Linked DNA regions of Homo sapiens: regions 2 and 3 are each linked to region 1. Evidence: fine-mapped expression QTL. A gene starts in region 1. Each other region holds a variant in brackets. All regions are shown on one strand. Distances are between the middles of the regions.

Region 1 (2,755 bases):
TTACTTGAAAAATAAAGTATCTGTTCAGATTTTCTAAGTAAATTTCCATTACTGGGTTTGGGAAAAAATCCCTACTACATTGTCTGTAACAAAAAGGTGCCTGCGCCTTCTTTCAACTGCCTGAAGCTTGTGAACCGACTGAATACATTTAAAGGGCTCACAGATCTCAGGACGCAGTCTCCCCGCACAAGAAACTTAAAAACGCCTTTCAGTCTCGCAGAGACCTACTTGGATGTTTCCAAGTTCCATCGTTTGGTAGCTACCCAGCATCTGGGGCGAAAAAAAAGGACTTATCCTTGGAAAAGCGGCTTCTTGAGTCTCAACAACCGGAGGGACACAGTAGGGAAGTCAGGGCTCACCTAAAACCCTCCACCCCAGCAGACAGTCCGGCAAGCCCCGGCTCACGTTTGTTTCCGTGCCCGCGAAACTCTCAATGAAAAGCATCTCACAAAAGGCCTCCCCTGCTCCCCGCGCCGAGGACTCACCAGCACCGTGGTGCAGATGGATCTCAGCTCGGACTCCACTTTCTCCCGATAGTCCTTAATCAGCTGCAACTTCTTGTCGGAGGTGTCGGTCTTCTGCTCGATGCTAGAGATGACCCTCCAGGCGGACCTGCGGCCCCCGACCACGTTCTTGTAGGCCACGGAGAGCAGGTTGCGCTCCTCGTTGGACAGCTCGGCGCCCTGCTCGGTCACTGCCTTCATGCAGGTGGCCATGTCGTCGTAGCGCTCGGCCTGCTCGGCCAGCTTGGCCTTCTGGATCAGCTCAGTCTTCTCCATGGCGGGCGCGGGGCCGGGGCCGGGGCGGAGGGCGAGGAGAGCGAGGGCGAGCGCCGACCCGCAGCGGGAGGAGCCTCGAGAGCTGCGGAGGGGCGGGGCGGCGAGGCGAGAACAAAAAGCAGAGAGGGAGCGCCGTCAGACAATGCGGCCCGCCGCCCGCTTTTGTCTCCCGCACACGCGGCCGCTTGAATTTCCCTCTCCCCCGCCCCCTCCCCCGCTGGGCACCCGGGGAGGCCGCGGCCCGCGGCTGGAGGAGGCGGGGGCGGCGCGGAGGCCCCGCGCGCAGGGAGCCCGAGCCGCGGCCGCTCCCGCCACCCCCGCCCGGCCGGCCCAAGATGGAAGCGACCGTTGGCCCCGCACCTTCCCGCCCGGAGCCGTCCCTGAGGGGAGCGGCATCGACAACCGGCTGCTCTCAAGGGCGGCACCTCCGCCCGGCCCTCAATCCGAGCGCGGCCGGAGGAAGCCCGCGGGCCGACCCAGGCGCTCACCTTCACGTCTCCGCGGCCGCGACGCGAGTCCCACCACTTTGATCTGCTTTTGGCTTTAGCTGAGGACCCTCCCGTGTCAGCCTACCCCGGGGCCGAGGGGCGGTCCACCGCCCAATGATGCGCCGAGCTTCTCCCGAGAGTCCCGCCCCCAGCGCGCCGCTGGCCAATGAGGACCGAGCGCGCGGAAGGGGGCGAGGGGGGCGGAGCGGGAGGGAACGCGGAGGCTAGGAGGGTGGGTCGGTACGGGGAAGTTCGGTTGGCCGGCAGGCTGCGGCTTCGGCCACGGGGTTTCCTCCAATTAGATCCAGGGTAAAAGGACGTCACTGTTGCCATGGCGATGCCGTTACCAACTCCCCTCAGCCTCCCCGCCACCCCGGCACTTCTGGGTGCGGCACGAGACCCAGAGGCGCGCACGACCTCCTAGGCGGCGGCTGCGTCTCCCGCTGCGGATGGTGCATTGCATCTCACGGGCTCTGGCCGAGGCTGGACTTCGGAGGGTGACATATTCAGCTGTTTTAGAGCACGGGGGCCTTTCTTTCCTCCACCTTTCTATCCGTGACAAAGGTTTGGATCCCAAGACACTAAACCCAGACCTTAATGACGTTGCCATTAGGGCTCCGAATTAAGCAAACCGCATCCCCATTAAAGAAGAATTGATTCTGGAGACGGTGTCTTCAGTATGGCATTTACATGATAAATTCAAGTTTTCAGATGGGCATCCTAAAACAAAAAATTCCCTTGTGAAAAGGTAGGTCCCAGAAGATCCAGGGGAGTTTCTGTGACAATGCCAAGTATTGTGGTTTTCTTTAAAATGAGAAATGACATTAAGCACAATTTGCAGGAAAACACCTATTACTACCCCTTCCCACCCCCGCAAAAAAAAACCCTGCCCATAACATCTCTCCCCGCAAAAAAAAAGCAATTTTTATGTATCTTTTAGGCTTTCCAGGTTATGCACCTAAATACATCATTTTTCACATCGTTGTCACATGTGCACACGCTTTTGTTTCTGGTATTATTTGTGAGAGGTCACTTGAAAAGCTGAAATCCTCTCCCTGGATGTTGATTTCTGATTTTCTCCTCCTGGGGAACACCCTGCTGAAGCGAGAAAGATTCCCCCAGGCCCCTCCCATTCAGGGTCATCCCTGGCAGCTCCCTTTCCTCTTAAACCACTCCTGTCTCTCCTTGCACTTCCCCAGTTCCCTAACTCCATCCAGGTAGGGTGGCTGCCCTGCCCGTCTGGCGCGTGGTCCCTGTGCCATCTTAAGATGAGAATTGCCCTCTGGGTTCACGCTGCTATGATCCCGATTCCAGCAGGTCTAAGGAGAATGGATCATAAAGAATTTCCCATTCTGAGTGGAGACTGGAGCAAATCCGGAGAATCTCTAGAATGGGAGATTTGAGAGTGCAGACAGATGGGAGGAGAAGGTGCCGACTTTCCAGAAATTCAGACTCCCTCTTGACTGCCCCTCCCTGTCCTGACTTGTG
Region 2 (2,755 bases), 120 kb after region 1:
GAGTACCCTAAAAACTCACAAAAAATGATTTCCTTTCTCTGCTTGTTGAAATTCTCCCTTCAAGGCCCAGTTTAAGTGTCACCTCCTCAGAGCAGCCCTCCTTGGTTTCCACCCTTCCTCACCCCTGTCAGACTCGTGGCTTCCTCCTCTATTCTCCCCAGTGTTCAGCATGTAGGTTGATGGTAGCACTCACTAATTCTGCTTTGTTTTACCTGTACTCAAGTTCATGGCTGTCTCCTCTCTGTGGTGGAGCTTTGGGTTGGACGGGTCTGGGAAGTCCCACCTACAGCTGACAGGCTGGGCTGGGCTCCAGGCCATCACAGGTCCCCCATCAGCAGCTCTCTCAACCCTGGCCTTGTGCCTACAGACCAAATGTGGCCAATGCGTTGAATTAGCAGCACTTTCAGGATCAAATCACAAAGCAACTCCTTCCTCTGTCCTGATTTAGTCAGGGGAATCACCTCTTCTCGGCCACTGCTGCAAACTCAGGCAATCCTATTACGTTTCTGGTTGCTCTTAGTTAATAAAAACTGTCTCACTGCAGGAAGGTTAAATGTCCCGTCCTGAATTTGAGTGAAAATGAAGTCTTCTTGCCTCTGCTGTCTTGAGCTTGCTGCAGGTAGGAAGCCTGCAGCTGGGAAGGGGCTTAGCTTTTCCCTCCTTCCTCACCCAGCTCACTGTCCGCATGCTACTCAGACATCCCCGCATCTGACCCAGCAGACCGCTCCTGCTCCTGCTCCTGCAAGTGTCTCCCCTGGCTCCTGTGAGGCCCACTGGCCTGGTGTCCGCTCTTTCTGAGGCTGTGACATTGGAGCTGTCTCTTTGGCTCTTCTCCGTCCACACTCTGTCCCTGGAGAGCTGCACCCCAGCAACATTCCCGTCTCTCCCTTCAACCCAGATACTCCCTGAGCTCCAGACTGTAGTTTCCAATGTTGTTTTCCAGTGTTCAACCTGACAGCGGCCGTTGGCTCCAAGGCTTCCTGAACTCAGTAACTGCCCCACTTAATTGCTGAGATGAGAAACCCCTGGTGGTGCTTGTTTTCTCTCTTTCGCTCCAAATCCATGCACAATCTAGCCCTGAGTTCTGCAGGCTCTGCAGCAGTGGTTCTCAGCCCAGAGGGACCGTGGCCCCCAGGGCACATTTGGCAATGTCTGGAGACATGTTTTATTGTCATAATTGGGGGTGGGT[A/G]GGGCTATGGGTTTCTAGTGGATTGGGGCCAGGGATGCTTCTAAATACCCTACAGTGCACAGGCCAGACCCCACAGTGAAGTGTCTTCCAGTCCAAAATGTCGGTAGCAGCGCCCCAAGAAACCCCGCTCTGCAGCCAGAATATGCACCCTGCACCCTACGCTCCTCCCGCCTCCACTGCCGTGGCCCGGCCAGACCCACGTCTCCGCTGGCCTGAGTGACTGCAATGGCCTCTTCCACTCTTGCCCTCCAGCAGACTGGTTTCCACCACGCAGCCAGCAGTGCCTTCCTTCCTTCCTTTCTTTCTTTCCTTTTTTTTTTTCTGAGACGGAATCTTGCTCTGTCACCCAGGCTGGAGTGCAGTGGTGTGATCTTGGTTCACTGCAACCTCCGCCTCCTGTGTTCGAGCGATTCTCCTGCCTCAGCCTCTTGAGTAGCTGGGATTACAGGCGCGTGCCACCATGCCCAGCTAATTTTTTTTGTATTTTTAGTGGAGATGGGATTTCATCATGTTGGTCAGGCTGGTCTCGAACTCCTGACCTCGTGATCCGCCCGCCTTGGCCTCCCAAAGTGCTGAGATTACAGGCATGAGCCACGGCGCCCAGCCAGCAGTGCCTTTCTAAAGCATGAGATCCTGCCCTTCCCCAGCCTAAAACCTTCTGGTGGCTTTCAGATGAGAACTGAACTCATCCTTGGCCAACAAGGCTCCGGACAGTCCCTGCTGCCCATCACCCTCCAGGCTCAGTCTCGGGCACGGCTGCCCTGGCCGCTCTCTTGTCCTTTGCTGGGGGACTTTGCTCTTGCCATCCCATGGGCTTAGCATGCTCCTCCCAGACCTCAATGCACCTCCTCATCTCTCAGGTCTCTGCTCCCATGACCCAACCTCAGGAAGCTGGGGGTGCGGTGGGCGGGCTGTGGCCCAGGGCAGGTTTGGGGCTGTGCTTTGTGACTCAGCGCTGGTTCACTTCTCTGCACTGGGGTGTGGTGGGGGTGATGCTGCTTTTAGTCAAAGCAGCTACAAAACTCCGAGAGCAAGTCGGCCGTTTTCTACATCTGGGCTGGCCGGGCTCCTTCTCGGATTTATCACAGGCGGGCAGCCGCTGACCCCTCCCTTTGCTATTGGAGGTGAGGAGAAGGAAGGGGACACGGGCCCTGGGAACTCGCCCCTGCTGAGTTACTCTACTTTTGGCAGCCTGAAGTTCAGGCTCCTGGCCCAGCATTGCAGGTTCTCCACTGTCAGGGTGGACCCCAGGCTCAGAACCCTCATCAGCTCAGGGCTCTACCCCCGCCTGGAACCGACCCACAGACCTTCCCTTCCGTCCCTTGGCTCAGGACGCAGGCCAGGGCAAAAGTAAGGGGCACAAGTGGGGAGAAAACCTGTGGAGGTGCCTGCTTGGTGCAGGCTCAGGCAGAGGCTCTGGACATGACACTTCCCCTTTAACTGACTTATCACGCCCAACTTCCAGGCTGTGTCATGCCCATTATGCAGAGAAGTGAAATGAATCACAGAGAGTTCATTAACGGGACAAAGCCTCGCAGGGGAACAGGATTCAGTCGTAGAACTCAG
Region 3 (2,755 bases), 110 kb after region 1:
TTTCAGAAACCCTCACACGGTGGCTCCTCTCCCTGCCAGGCATCAGGAGGCCCCAGAGGAGCAGCAGAGGCAAGACTCGCTGTCCAGACTCCCTTCTGAGGAGACTGCGGTCAGGGAGCCCAGGCTGACCCTCGTGTTCTCATGCCTCGGTCCTGTTGATAAGAGGGAAGTCTGTGCTGGGTTCCTATCCACAAAGCCCTTGCGGGGAATGGGTCCCACACGCCGCTTCTGCAGACCCAGCTCATCCTGTTTCCGGTTTCTATTTTGTTTTTTCTTTTTTTTTTTTTTGATACGGAGTCTCGCTCTGTCGTGATCCGCCCGCCTCGGCCTCCCAAAGTGCTGGGATTACAGGCGTGCGCTACCGCGCCCGGCCCTGTTTCTGGTTTCCAATTCTCTTAGGATGTCAGTGCCTTTGATCCTCTGAGCCCCCGGAAGGGCTCAGCCCTCTCACATCTGCCTTCCTCCTAGAGGTGTGACGCCTGCCCTTCCGCCAGGGCGAGGCAGGGGAGTGACTTGGCGCCCGAGTCCCGTTTCCCGTCCCCTCTCCGTTGCCTGTGCTCAGAGCCAGGGACTCTGCTATTTGTAGGCCCCGCGGGCTCTGTCTGGGGTCTTTCCCCAGGGGAGGGTGTGCGTCCGGGAAGGAGAGGCAGCCTGGAGTTCCTTCTGGATACCGGCCAGGCCTGCGCTATTTGCCTGGAGAGGCCATCGGCATCACTGAGAAGGTCCCTGGAACTCGCTGCTCAGACACATATGTGGCAGCCAGTCAGGAGCTACGTTCTTCTTTGCTGGAAACAAGCAAGGATAGACTGTGATTTTCCTCTCCCTCTGTTGTGTATTTTTCACTCCTGTCTCTCCATCAACCCACCCACCCATCCATCCATTCATCCACTCATCCATCCACCCACCCACCCACCCATCCATCCATCCATCCATCCATCTACCCATCCACCCACCCATCCATCCACCCACCCATCCATCCATCCTACCATCCATCCACTCATCCATCCACCCACCCACCCACCCATCCATCCACCCACCCATCCATCCATCCATCTACCCACCCACCCACCCATCCATTCACCCACCCATCCACCCATCCATCCACCCATCCATCCACCCATCCACCCACCCATCCACCCATCTATTCACCCATCCACCCACCCACCCACCCACCCACCCACCCATCCACCCATCTATCCATCCACCCACCTGTCACATAGTGTGGCAAATACAACAACGACTCACATGTGGTTCCTGCCCCTACACCCTCAACACTCATACCCTAGTGGGGACTCCTCCAACCAACGAATGCAGAAGGTTTTAGCTCCCTGATGGGCATTTGTATTTGAAGTTGGGGGGTGGGGGGCTGCACAAATGTGCACAACTTAATAGAGGTCCTTCTGGCATTGTGCCAAAGTGAAGCTGAGGAGGAGTTAAATTTTTATGTTTTTTTGGTTGTTCAGCCTCTGTAGAGAGTCTCAAAAATTCTCGATGCCAATTATATTTCAAGTTGTCATG[A/G]CAAGCTATAGGGAAAAGTTTTCAATTAGCAATAATCATGTCTCAGGCAAACCTCATTGGCTATGGTACCGCCACTGCAGAAATCTGAGGAGTTATTTTTAAGCAAGGGCTCTGCCTTCCCAGCGTGTCTTAAATTTCTCCAGGGTGAGTCAGATCACCCCTGTTCTTGGGGACCTCTTACACCAGCTACTGGTCGCCAGGTCTAGGGGAGGTTAGTGACCTCAGCCCTGGAAGGGGAGCCTCAAAGTCACTGGTGAGCCTCAAAAGAGGCTGGCAGGGCTGCCTGCCCAGACCCATTTGCTACAGTTATAATGGGGAGTGTCCTTGGGTAATGAACTGCTATGTAGAGCTCCTGATTAAGCACTAATTAATTATTAATGCACTGTGTCATAATTTTGCCTGGCCCTTTCTATGCCAAAGAATTGTATCCCACAATTCCATTTGTGATCCTGCATTTTCTGATTTGTGGCCATGGTGGCCCCTTTTCAAGCTCACCTGTCTCTGCAGTGGCCAGATGGATCACTGAGGGTACATGCACCACGAGGTCATTGTCCACTGGTAGTAGGTGGCATGGATGACGACTCATGGGTGTAACGTGTGAACAACAACAGATACACCGGCTGGAGTCAGCCACACTTGGAATTCTGGCTGTAATGCTACTGTGGTTTGGATATTTGTCTCCCGAAACCTCATGTTGAAATTTGATCCCCGATACTGGAGGTGGGGGCCTATGGGAGGTGTTTGGGTCATGGGGACAAATCCCTCATGAAGGTCTTGGTACTGTCCTTGTCCTTGTTATAATGAGTAGGTTCTTGGTCTATTAGTTCCCTCAAAGGCTGGTTGTTTAAAGAGCCTGGAACCTCCTCCTCCTCTCTCTGGCTTTCCCTCTCCCCATGTGATTCTTACACATACCGGCTTCCCTTTGCCTTCTGCCATGAGTGGAAGCAGCCTGAAGCCCTCACCAGAGGCAGATGCTGGCACCATGCTTGTTGTACAGTCTGCAGAACCATGAGCCAAAGAAACCTCTTTTCTTTATAAGTTACCCAGGCTCAGGTATATCCTTTATGGCAATGCAAATGGACTAAGGCAAATGTACTCACCTTGGTGTTACCTCAATCATGTTACTTAACCCTTTGAGCCCTTCTCATCCATACAGGAAGGAGAAGAGTAGCACCTGCCTCACGTGTTTAACCAGAAAGAGGACCTCAGGCTCCAGTGATGGATCGGGACATGTCTT

The links. PIP is the estimated chance that this variant, and not a neighbour inherited with it, causes the effect.
Region 2: its variant is the best candidate, but not a certain one, in a credible set for the expression of YWHAQ in whole blood (TOPMed, PIP 0.77).
Region 3: its variant is the best candidate, but not a certain one, in a credible set for the expression of YWHAQ in whole blood (INTERVAL, PIP 0.62).

Annotation. Positions count from the first base shown.
Region 1 is chr2:9,629,674-9,632,428 of GRCh38, forward strand. YWHAQ (tyrosine 3-monooxygenase/tryptophan 5-monooxygenase activation protein theta) reads right to left here and starts at 1,324. Exons shown (of 6, transcript NM_006826.4): 1 at 1,268-1,324; 2 at 486-861. The coding sequence starts at 779. RefSeq lists enhancers at 1-812, 556-655 and silencers at 776-1,125, 1,326-1,425, 1,476-1,645.
Region 2 is chr2:9,750,656-9,753,410 of GRCh38, forward strand. LOC124905969 (a long non-coding RNA gene) reads left to right here and starts at 2,177. Exons shown (of 3, transcript XR_007086205.1): 1 at 2,177-2,313. RefSeq lists enhancers at 70-149, 450-519, 2,412-2,755. The variant A/G (reference allele first, on the strand shown) is at 1,190.
Region 3 is chr2:9,739,180-9,741,934 of GRCh38, forward strand. It overlaps the pseudogene RNU4-73P. Among named protein-coding and RNA genes, the nearest start is that of TAF1B, 100 kb to the right of the region's middle. The variant A/G (reference allele first, on the strand shown) is at 1,519.